Linked DNA regions of Homo sapiens. The protein of the gene in region 1 purifies or fractionates together with the protein of each later gene. This does not show direct contact. Each region holds a gene or a part of one and is shown in the gene's direction. Other genes may lie near its edges. The genes, in order: SLC46A2, HELB and PODXL.

Region 1 (3,751 bases):
CCCCTACAGTCTAGAGCCCTAGAATGCACAGACTCCTTGATCAAGTGGCCAGAGTGGTCCATCTGGGTCAGGTTGTTCTCATGGCCATATTTGATTGTGGAATACCACCTGGCCCCATAACCTACTCATTCACTGGAGTCTCCACCCCTCATAGGATCAAGGTGTTTGGACTGTTTGCTGTAGCCTCTGGAAAAATTAAGAATGGAGTGGGAGAGCCAGGCTTGGGTTGGGTGAAACATGTATCTCCCAAGGTGACCCTAGGTGAGGGGGAGGAAGAAGGAAATGGGCTGCTGGGCCAGATCCATGGGGCACATCTTGAAGGGCAAGACTAGGTGTGTCTTTCTCTTTGCAGAAGGCAGAGTCGTCTGGGCCTAGACACGAGGAGGCTGGGCCATGCTGGAGGTTGAGGGTGGCAGGGGAGGAGATTATAGCCCACCTAAACACTACCAAAAGAGCACATAGATACACTAAATCATTTGGAATCCAGTCCCTACTCCCTACATGAGTATATTATCCATGTGGCATTTTAAGCTCTCCCTGCATACCTGCGTCTCCCTTTCATGTCTTTGGGTTCCTGATCATCCACGCTGCCAGAGCTATAGTGGATTGTGGGTAGAGGGACAGGAAGGCTGTGTGCTTTGAGTCTCCATCCCTGGGGCTGACCATGGAACAGGTCATGCTCTGTGGTACATTTTGGCCCCTGCACCATCCATCACCCTGGTTTTCTTTGCAGAAGTATGTACCTAAACAAGAAGCGAGGCCACCTGGGAAGTGGAGGTCTCAGCCCAGCCCAGGGGAGTGAGCCCACAGACAGAAGAAGAGTGACTACTAACAAGCAGAAAGGGACCTGGGCACTTGATTCAGATGAGGACCCTGGTGACTCTGCCCCTTCCAGTGGGCTCAAGCCCCTGCCCAAGAGTCCAGTTTTATCATCTAGGGGGACATCTAGGGCTGGCAGGATCTTGCCGTCTCTCCCTTGGCCCTGGGGTTTGGGGCAGGAGCCTTCTAGACAAGGCCCAGGCACTAGGCCCACCAATGCAGGTGTACCAAACAGGACTCTTCTCTAAGAGGCCTTTGGCTTGGAGAAGAGCCTGGACCTGGCGGCTCCCAAGTTTTTACTTCTCTCAAAGTGCTACCCAGCTGCCTATAGCACATGGGCCCCTGTTGCATTAAATCTATAAATAAAACTTCACACCCCAATACTTATCCTAGGCAGAATCCTAGGCGTCCCACCCCTCGCGCAAACCTGCCTTCCTGGGATGGGAGAATTTGGAAACGCTCCCTGAGCCAGTCCTGGGGAGCTTCCTTCCAGCCCCTGCCCCGGTGGTGGGGGGTCCGCAGAGATCCGCGGGAGGTCCGGGCACGCACGCCTGGCTGTGGGGAAATTCGGCCCCGTCAGGCGGCCGCGCTCACAGGAGCAGCGTGACCCGTCGGCCCCGGGGGTGCTGGCGCCAGGAGCCAGCACTCGCGGTGCGCTCCCCCGCGCCTGGCTTCCCTGGACTGTCGCCAGTCCTACTCTGCCTGAGGTGGCGAGGGCAGGGTGGAGCGCGGCCTTTTCTGGCCTGAGGAGGAGTCACTCGGGAGGTCACTCGGCTGCTGGGCGGGCTGCTGTCACAGGCGCTGCGTGCCCTGGCTCTGCTCGCCACTGGCCGGCGCGCTCCCGGCGCACGGAGCACACTCGCGCTCCCGGCGCACGGAGCACACTCGCGCTCCGGGACTGAAACCTGAGCAGCCGTAGCAGCCGAATTTGGGAGCATATCCTTGTCACTGCAGCCAGAAAGCCCTTCGATCCCCATCAGAGAGGTCACATGAGCCCCGAGGTCACCTGCCCGCGGAGGGGCCACCTGCCTCGCTTCCACCCGAGGACCTGGGTTGAGCCCGTGGTGGCCTCGTCCCAGGTGGCTGCCTCCCTCTACGATGCGGGGCTACTCCTCGTGGTGAAGGCGTCCTACGGAACCGGAGGCTCCTCCAACCACAGTGCCAGCCCATCGCCCCGGGGGGCTCTAGAGGACCAACAGCAGAGAGCCATCTCCAATTTCTACATTATCTACAACCTTGTGGTGGGCCTGTCCCCCCTGCTGTCCGCCTACGGGCTGGGATGGCTCAGCGACCGCTACCACCGAAAGATCTCCATCTGCATGTCGCTGCTGGGCTTCCTGCTCTCCCGCCTCGGGCTGCTGCTCAAGGTGCTGCTGGACTGGCCAGTGGAGGTGCTGTACGGGGCGGCGGCGCTGAACGGGCTATTCGGCGGCTTCTCCGCCTTCTGGTCCGGGGTCATGGCGCTGGGATCGCTGGGCTCCTCCGAGGGCCGCCGCTCTGTGCGCCTCATCCTCATTGACCTGATGCTGGGCTTGGCGGGGTTCTGCGGGAGCATGGCTTCCGGGCATCTCTTCAAGCAGATGGCTGGGCACTCTGGGCAGGGCCTGATACTGACGGCCTGCAGCGTGAGCTGTGCCTCGTTTGCCCTGCTCTACAGCCTTTTGGTGCTAAAGGTCCCTGAGTCGGTGGCCAAACCCAGCCAGGAGCTCCCCGCCGTGGATACCGTGTCTGGCACGGTTGGCACATACCGCACTCTGGATCCTGATCAGTTGGACCAACAGTATGCAGTGGGGCACCCTCCATCTCCTGGAAAAGCAAAACCCCATAAAACCACCATTGCCTTGCTCTTTGTGGGTGCTATCATATATGACCTGGCGGTGGTGGGCACAGTGGACGTGATCCCTCTTTTTGTGCTGAGGGAGCCTCTCGGTTGGAACCAAGTGCAGGTGGGCTATGGTATGGCTGCAGGGTACACCATCTTCATCACCAGCTTCCTGGGTGTCCTGGTCTTCTCCCGCTGCTTTCGGGACACCACCATGATCATGATTGGGATGGTCTCCTTTGGGTCAGGAGCCCTCCTCTTGGCTTTTGTGAAAGAGACATACATGTTCTATATTGGTGAGTCTGTCATTCTTGAGGAGGCAGGACATTGCTAGCCCTCTGCATCATGGGGCTGACACCAGGGATGCCATGGTCTGGGTGTCCTAGCTCAGCACCAGGGATTGAACCTGCTACCTAGGAGGCACAAGGGACACAAGATTATATGCCCCTGAGTTTATCTGTAATGTATTGTTAATTAATTATCTATATTGAGAATGAAATGTTACCAGAGTGGTGTTCATGGTTCTGGGCAGTCAAGGAGGTGTGGTCAGTGGTACCTGGAGTCAGTAGGGGAGGCTTCAGGATGGCCTTCAACAGAGGAGATGGAATTGGGTTTCTTCCCCCACACCCCCTTGCCATTTTAAAGGGATGGAATTTCAAAGGCCGAGCGCAGAGGCTCTCGCCTGTAATCCCAGCACTTTGGGCGGGAGGTGGGAGGATCACTTGAGGCCAGGAGTTCAAGACCAGCCTGGCCAATATAGCAAAACCTCATCTCTACCAAAAGCATAAAAATTAGCCAGGTGTGGTGGTGCACACCTGTAGTCCTAGCTACTCAGGAAGCTGAGGCACAAGAATCACTTGAACCCAAGAGGCAGCGGTTGTAGTGAGCCGAGATTGTGCCACTGCACTCTAGCCTGGGTGATAGAGCAAGACTCTGTCTCAAAAAAAAAAAAACAAACAAACAAAAAAAAAAAAACGTGGAGGAGTGGAATTTCAAGTAATTCTACTGAAAAGATCCCTTAATTAAAATCATTTGGAGTCAAGCAAGGGCTTTTTAAAAATGCATTAAAATACTCGGTAAATGCCTTCCACAACCAATGTAATAAATTCC
Region 2 (3,651 bases), on another chromosome or scaffold:
GTCATGTCACTTAACCATTTGTAAAATGGGAACCATAGTGGAACTCCCTGTGGAGCTATTACGAGGGTTGAGGGCATTCATCAGTGTGAGACACTCTATAAATGTCAGTTTGTTGTGACTAATAGATGTTATTAAATTAGCTATTGCAAGTGAATTTATTTAAATAGATTGAACTTATCTGTTGATCTTTATTTTCATTATAAACTCACCTAGCAAACCTTTTAAAAATGGTGTAATGGTTTTCTCAAAATTGAATTAGTAAAGGTTTAAACTATTATTACTGAGGACTTTTTGTAGTTGCCACTGTTCTCAAAGGTATATCCTTCCCACTTAACCACTTTCACTGTGTATGTGAAAGTAATGATATACAACTTCATCTGTCAGCCTTTTCCCCTTAGTGTGTGTCCCCAGTCTCACTTCCCGTGGGTTAGTGATCATTTACATGTTACAACAATGTATTTAAATAAATGCGATCATACATAGTGTTCTATAATGTGCTTTTTTGGTTTTTTTTGTTTATTGTAGAAACTTTTTTTTTCTATTTTTCATTCAGCAAATACTTATTGAACTCCTGTTATATACTAGATACAATACAATAGATAAAGCAGAGGAAAAGATTAAAAAAAAATTGTCCCTGAGGTTATTGTGCTTTCATTCTAGTGTGGGAAACAGATAATTAAAAAGTGAACAAATATATTTTCAAACATCAGAGTACAAAGAATCAAGTAAACTTAACTAAATACTTACCAGTGACTGATTAAATTTGTTGCAAGATTGCTTTAGATTGTGGGGGCCAATGATTTGAGAAACAATTTATACTCTTTAAAAAAAAAAGTCAATGATACAGGAATGTTTGAAGTAAGAATTAATGTTCCCTGGTAATTTTCCTTTCTCTTCTTCCCCCAGGACAATCCCATTAAGGTCACACACATAGTAAAAGCTTGGTGTTTATCCTTTTAACCTTATTATATCCATATACAATCATATTTATTTCAGTTTTACATAAATTGGTTTATAAGCTGCATATTGTTTTGTGACTTAGAAATGTATGTTAAATAATTAATAGCTAATGTTTCTTTTCACAGCTTAGTTAATAGTAGGTCCTATTTACAGGTGAGGAAAATGAGACTTAGTTAAATAGATCTCTTTCTTTGCCACTTCACTTAATTCTACCTAAAATATTGTTGGTTTTATTTCTGGTACCCATTCTTTGCATTAATGAGAATGTACTTTTAAAAAAAATTGTCCATTTTAGACTGGTAGCAGAGCTTACCTGATACTGCTTTTCTAAATTAAAAACTTCTGCTGGAAAATTAGTCTCTTCTTCAAGGAAATTGAGTAAATATTCCTTAGGAAGCATATAGTACTTTTTCACTAATTATTAAGTTATTAAGTAAATTATGCCCATTATTACAAAGTACTAAGACCTAAGACAGGATTCATATTTGGGCTAGAATTTCAGAGTTGCTAAAATGTGAGAAAAATGTATATCTTAGAATCAATAAAATACGTTGTACATATTGATCTGCAAGATGTGGGGAAAGTGAAAAAAGGTATGGAACAGTGCCATCCTGTACATGTTAAAAAGAACAGTATGCTGGGAGACCTTTGGAAATTCCTGTTCCGGAAGCCAGGGGTTGGTTGAGGGTGAGCTGAGTCTTGGCTGTTTTCTAGCGGTAATCTTCCCTTCATCTGAAAAATGAAGGGCTCAGCAGGCAGCTAAGTTTGTCTTCCCAGAGCAGGGCATCACAAGGCATGGGCTTTTTCATTCCCTTGTGATTCATCTGCTATTAGGGAAACATACATGGGAAAATGCTTGTACTTCCATGAGCCTTAGTTTTCACATTCATAATATGGATGTCATCAGAAGTCAGACTACCCAATGGCTGTAGGGCATGAGCACCATTGGAATGGATGCCCCCGCTATGCCAGGGTTAACCTTTTAGTTGCTAGATCATGGGGAGGTCTGGGGAGAAGGAAAGAGATGGTTGGGGTGGGGAGTAGAGCATTGTGTTGTTAGGGGAGTGGCTGTTTTCCAGCTAATATGGAAGTATTGCTATGTTTTATACAAGTGTGTGCCAGTTGAATATCAGCTCTGAATATAAGAGCACCTACCACATGTGGGTGTCCTGCATATTAAGTGATATAACATATAAGGCCTGTATATTGTCAAGTTCTAACTGATTACTAACATGATCACAAGGACTTAAAACAGGAAGTTTTACATTAGTCATGCTGTTACACACTTTGTACTCTTGTTTATTTCTTAAATTCAGTGTTCATAAACCATCAGCAAATACACAGTGAGTCTATTACAAATGGGGAACTGTCCTGGCCAGGGGTTGACCTCTCTGTTGAGGGTGGGTTGTCTTGGAACCCTTCTTTCCATTCTCTTTCCTATTGCCCTGGCTGATGTGGGGAATGAGGTTGACATTCCCATGGTGAACTTGTATTCCATTTGGTGAGATATTTTCCCAGGGCCCTTAGCAGGAATCCCAGATTAGTTTCTTCATAGAAATTGTGTTATAATTTGGTGATTTGCTGTGTTAACTTTTTTCTCTTGAATTATTAGGTTTATATTCTGCAGTTAAAACTTTACTACAAGAAAATAACTTACAAAATGCAAAAACATCACAATTTATTGCATTTAGAAGGTAAAGCATTTATAATATTTTAATGTTTTTAATCTAGCTTTTAAATCTCATAACTTATTAATATAGATCCTGTTTGGATGGGAGATTCCAATATTTCATCACTGTTAATTCTCTTTCTTATTTTGGGGTATGTCTTTGTTAGACATGGCAGAGGGCGCTTTCTAAACAGAGCTCTTTCCACCAAGTATTATATTTAGAAGCTCATAGGGACTCTGAATGGAACAAAAGCTTATGCTAAGATAAAAAATACAGGCTGGGCTTGGTGGCTCACACCTGTAATCCCAGCACTTTGGGAGGCCGAGGCAGGCAGATCACTTGAGGTCAGGAGTTTGAGACCAGCCTGGCCAAAATGGTGAAACCCCTCCTGCCTACTAAAAATACAAAAATTAGCCAGGCGTCATGGCACACACCTGTAATCCCAGCTACTTGGGAGGCTGAGGCAGGAGAATTGCTTGAACCCGGGAGGTGGAGGTTGCAGTGAGCCGAGAGCACGCCATTGCACTCCAGCCTGGGCAACAAGAGCGAGACGCTGTCTCAAAAAAAAAAAAAAAAAGATAAAAAGTAGAAAAATACTATTTCCTGGAGAAAGTCTTGGAAACGTTTTGTAGAATCTAGTATGTCATAATTGCTGATAACAAAAGTAAACCTGTAGCAGAGACCATTAAGGTGACCCCTGCATTTTCGTGTGTTTCAGGCAAGACTGTGATCTAATTAATGACTGCTGCTGCAAACACTACACAGGCCACCTCACCAAGTGAGTGTCTTCGAGAACTGAAACTTTTAAGGACAGTCCTTCTTCGATTTGCTGGTTTTTTTTTTTGCTTTGATGTTTGTCACCTATTTACATATATTCCCAAAATAGTTTTTTTTCCCATTTGTGAAATAGAATGATCTCTTCAATTAAATACAATATATGAATACATCCTTGGGAATTGACATTTTAGTAATGAGTGGAATAAGAAGAAAAATTAGGAGTGAAATTTTTTTGGTTTCAACC
Region 3 (3,651 bases), on another chromosome or scaffold:
GGTGGAAACACTCAGACTTTGGGTCAGAGAGATGTGCATGACCATGGACAAAATAGTGGACCTCCCTGAACCTCAGTTTCTTCATCTATAAAGTAATAACAGCCCTACCTTGTGGGTTGCTATGAAGATGAGCGAGTATATATATCATGGGCTTGGCTTTACGCCCAACTCAGGATCAACACTCAAAAAATAGCTATGATGATTAGTAAGCATATATATTGAGCACCTGGTGGGTTTAAGGGACCCCAGGCATTGGGATCCTGCCAATGTTTGTGGGTATCAGTGGATATATGATAATAAAAACTGAAGCCCCAGTGCCACTCTGTGGGAGAGGGAGGCATATGGAAAAGAGTATAAGATTTGGAAGGGGTGGTCTGGAGGTCTGGAGAAAGCTTCCTGAAGGAGGTGGGGTTTTCACATAGGGATTTTAAAATTAAAAGGGTCAGTGTTTCCTAATGTGGCTGAGGCTCTATGAATTGTAGTGTGTAGGGGAGATGCAGATTAGGGTCGGGGAGTCTGTGATGGTGGTTCTTGAGATGGAGTCATTGAGGCTTTGGGGAGATTAGCTCTCAGAACTGGAGAGAAAATTCCACGGTGGCAGGGTGTGGCTGCTCACGCCTGGAATCCCAGCAAATTTGAGAGGCCAAGGTGGGAGGATCACTTGAGCCTAGGAGTTCAAGACCAGCCTGGGCAACCTAGTAAGACTGTACTAAAAAGACAAAAAAATTAGCTGGGCATGGTAGTGGCACACGCCTGTAGTCCCAGCTACTCAGGAGACTGAGGTAGGAGAATTGCTTGAACGTGGGAGACAGAGGTTGCAGTGAGCCAAGATCACGCCACTGCTCTCCAGCCTGGGCAACAGAGGGAGACCCTGACTCAAGGAAAAAAACAAGGTGCCCAGGGCTGGGGTGGGGGAATGTGGGTGTTCCCAGCATGGTGCAGCTTGGGACAGGATCTGAGGCAGGAGCGAGCTGGACATGGCGGGGTTAGGAGCCCAGCCATTCAAGGGCAGACCCAAAAGCACCTGGTGTCAGTGTGGCCAGAGCTTTGGAGTGTGGTCGTCCAGAGAAGGGCTGAGGAGGGGAGCGTGGCCTGCCCAGGAGGGTCCTCAGGGTGTCCCCCAGGCCTAGAGAAGGTGGGGGAAGAGGCATGGAGGCTGTCCCCCATCTGGTTTTCCTCAGGAACCCATGTTTGAAAGGAGAGGAGGGTGCTGCCTGGGGTTTTAACACCACTGCCCTGTGGAAAGCTGAGAGGGGAAGGGGACTAGACTCCCTGTGGTTAGAATTCCCCCCCTTGCAGGGAGGGAGGGGAAGAGCCACTCCTAGCCACCCTCAGGCATCATCTCTGAGATGCCTTCCCTGGTTTCCTAGGGAGAACCAAAGTGTGTTCCATGATCTGTGTGTCTCCTCCACCATGCGGTGAGGCCCTCGAGGGGCCAACAACATACTTATCACCACCTCCAGGGCCCAGCCCAGCACCCAGCGCTGAGCGGTCGCTTGGGATACTCTGGACTGTAGAACTGAGGGGAACCGGCTTCAGCCCTGGCTTTAGGCTCCCTGGAAGGGGAGTTTGCATCCTGGGAAGGGATGTCTGGCCAGTGGGCTTGTTCTCCAGCAGCTAGAGCTGGTGGGAGCAACTGCTGAAGGTTAAGGCTTCTGTGGGGCTGGTGACCCCTGTGATGCTGGTGGCTGCTGTGGAGCTGGCTCAGCACTTAGCTCAGAGCCCTTCACTGTTTTTTTTTTTTTTGAGATGGAGTCTCGTTCTGTCACCCAGGCTGGACTGCAGTGGCGTGATCTCAGCTCACTACAAGCTCCACCTCCCGGGTTCACGCCATTCTCCTGCCTCAGCCTCCCGAATAGCTAGGACTACAGGCGCCCACCTCCACGCCCGGCTAATTTTCTGTATTTTTTAGTAGGGACGGGGATTCACCATGTTAGCCAGGAAGGTCTCGATCTCCTGACCTCATGATCCGCCCGCCTCAGCCTCCCAAAGTGCTGGGATCACAGGCATGAGCCACCGCACCCAGCTCAGAGCCCTTCACTCTTAAGGGAAGTGGGAGGAATCGTGTCTCCAGTTCACTGGACTTCTCAGGAGGGGACGTAGATGACCCCTATTCCAGGAAGTGCTGCTTCTTCACACCCTTTGAGGCAGAGGCCCTCTTCAGGGCTGCTGAATGCAAGCTTTGCTCTAGCTGAAATGGAAGTCATTCCTACATAATCAGAGAAAGAGAATGGCATTGCCCTGCCCATCCCTACCCACCAGCCTGAGCCTGCCTGGACACTTTCACTGGACCTCAGCCAGGAGCTCTTTACCCAGCTCTGGGCTCATTTCCTATTTGCACCCACTGGCCATGAAGCAGGGCAGGGAGCTCAGCTGGTGGGGTTTCCTGTCCCGGACCCAGGAACATGGGCTAAGTTGGATGGGCCTCTCTTTATCATGTATCCTGTCTGCTCTATGGGGCTGTTAAGAAATCAAGTGATGTAGCAGATCTGGGATGGTGACTCCTACCCTGCACAGGCCAAATGACGGGGGCATTCTCTATAAGAAAAGCCTTCAAGAAAATTGACACAGAGGATCCCTTAAAGGAGCCTCTTCATATTTGCAGTAACATTTGCCATATGACTGCTTCGAGTCGGCAGCCTGCAGGCTGTGCAATGTGGAATTCGGTTGGCAAAGGGTACTTTCCACACCACTTCTAAATGAGCCAGAAAATCATAGGACACAGAATTCTAGAGCTGGGGAGCCTTCTGGAAATCATCTACTACAACCTGCTTGTTTCAAATGGGGGATTGCAGGCCAGGGAGGTGGGTTCATTCGCCCAAGTTCCCAGTGACTCTCAATAAATAGCTTTCCAGGAGGTGGGTGTGCACACGTGTGTGTGCGTGTGTGTGTGTGTGCGTGCATGTATGTGTGTGCATGTGCGCATACGTGTCAGCTGTAAATACCAGAATAGAACTCAGCCCTTTCAGTGCTGATTCCCTCCTGGGAATTGGAAAAACTCACCAAATCCCCTTTATATATTTTTTTATTTTACTTCTTTTTGTTCTGAGATGGAATCTCGCTGTGTTGCCAAGGGTGGAGTGCAGGTGGCTTGCTGCAACCTCTGCCTCCCAGATTCAAGACATCCTCCTGCCTCAGCCTCCTGAGTAGCTGGGACTACAGGCATGCGCCACCACACCCAGCTAATTTCTGTAGAAATAGGGTCTCACCATGTTGGCCAGGCTGGTCTTGAACGCCTAACCTTGAGTGATCTGCCCACCTCAGCCTCCCAGTGCTAGGATTACAGGCATGAGCCATCATGCCTGGCGAAAAACCTCTTTAAAAAGGACTTTAGGATGGTGACAAACCTATACTGTGCCCACATCTCTTTCCCTACCCCTCTACCATAAGGGTAAATTGAGGCTTGGGGCCATGTTGCTATTTAAGAGTTAGACTCCTAAGGGTGCCTGGAATACTGTGCCATAGCACTGGCCACCATGCATTGTGCCTAAATATGTCGGTGTTTGCCACTGGCCCACTGGCTGAGGACCCCCTGTCATTTCCACAGCCTCTAGCCAAATAGGTGGTTAAGAAATGTTTGCGGGATAATTGGCTGCACAAAATGCAGCGTTCAGCTGCAGATTCATCAGTGGCCCTTGCCCACATCTCCCG

The links.
Region 2: the proteins of SLC46A2 (region 1) and HELB purify together in Homo sapiens (affinity purification with mass spectrometry; one large-scale study listed by BioGRID and IntAct). This does not show direct contact.
Region 3: the proteins of SLC46A2 (region 1) and PODXL purify together in Homo sapiens (affinity purification with mass spectrometry; one large-scale study listed by BioGRID and IntAct). This does not show direct contact.

The regions. Positions count from the first base shown.
Region 1 is NC_000009.12:112,888,739-112,892,489, reverse strand, and holds the start of SLC46A2 (solute carrier family 46 member 2), read left to right. Parts: upstream 1-1,613; 5' UTR 1,614-1,808; coding exon 1,809-2,937; intron 2,938-3,751.
Region 2 is NC_000012.12:66,319,376-66,323,026, forward strand, and holds part of HELB (DNA helicase B), read left to right. Parts: intron 1-2,572; coding exon 2,573-2,654; intron 2,655-3,348; coding exon 3,349-3,408; intron 3,409-3,651.
Region 3 is NC_000007.14:131,550,032-131,553,682, reverse strand, and holds part of PODXL (podocalyxin isoform 1 precursor), read left to right. Parts: intron 1-3,651. UniProt on the Homo sapiens protein: Involved in the regulation of both adhesion and cell morphology and cancer progression. Functions as an anti-adhesive molecule that maintains an open filtration pathway between neighboring foot processes in the podocyte by charge repulsion.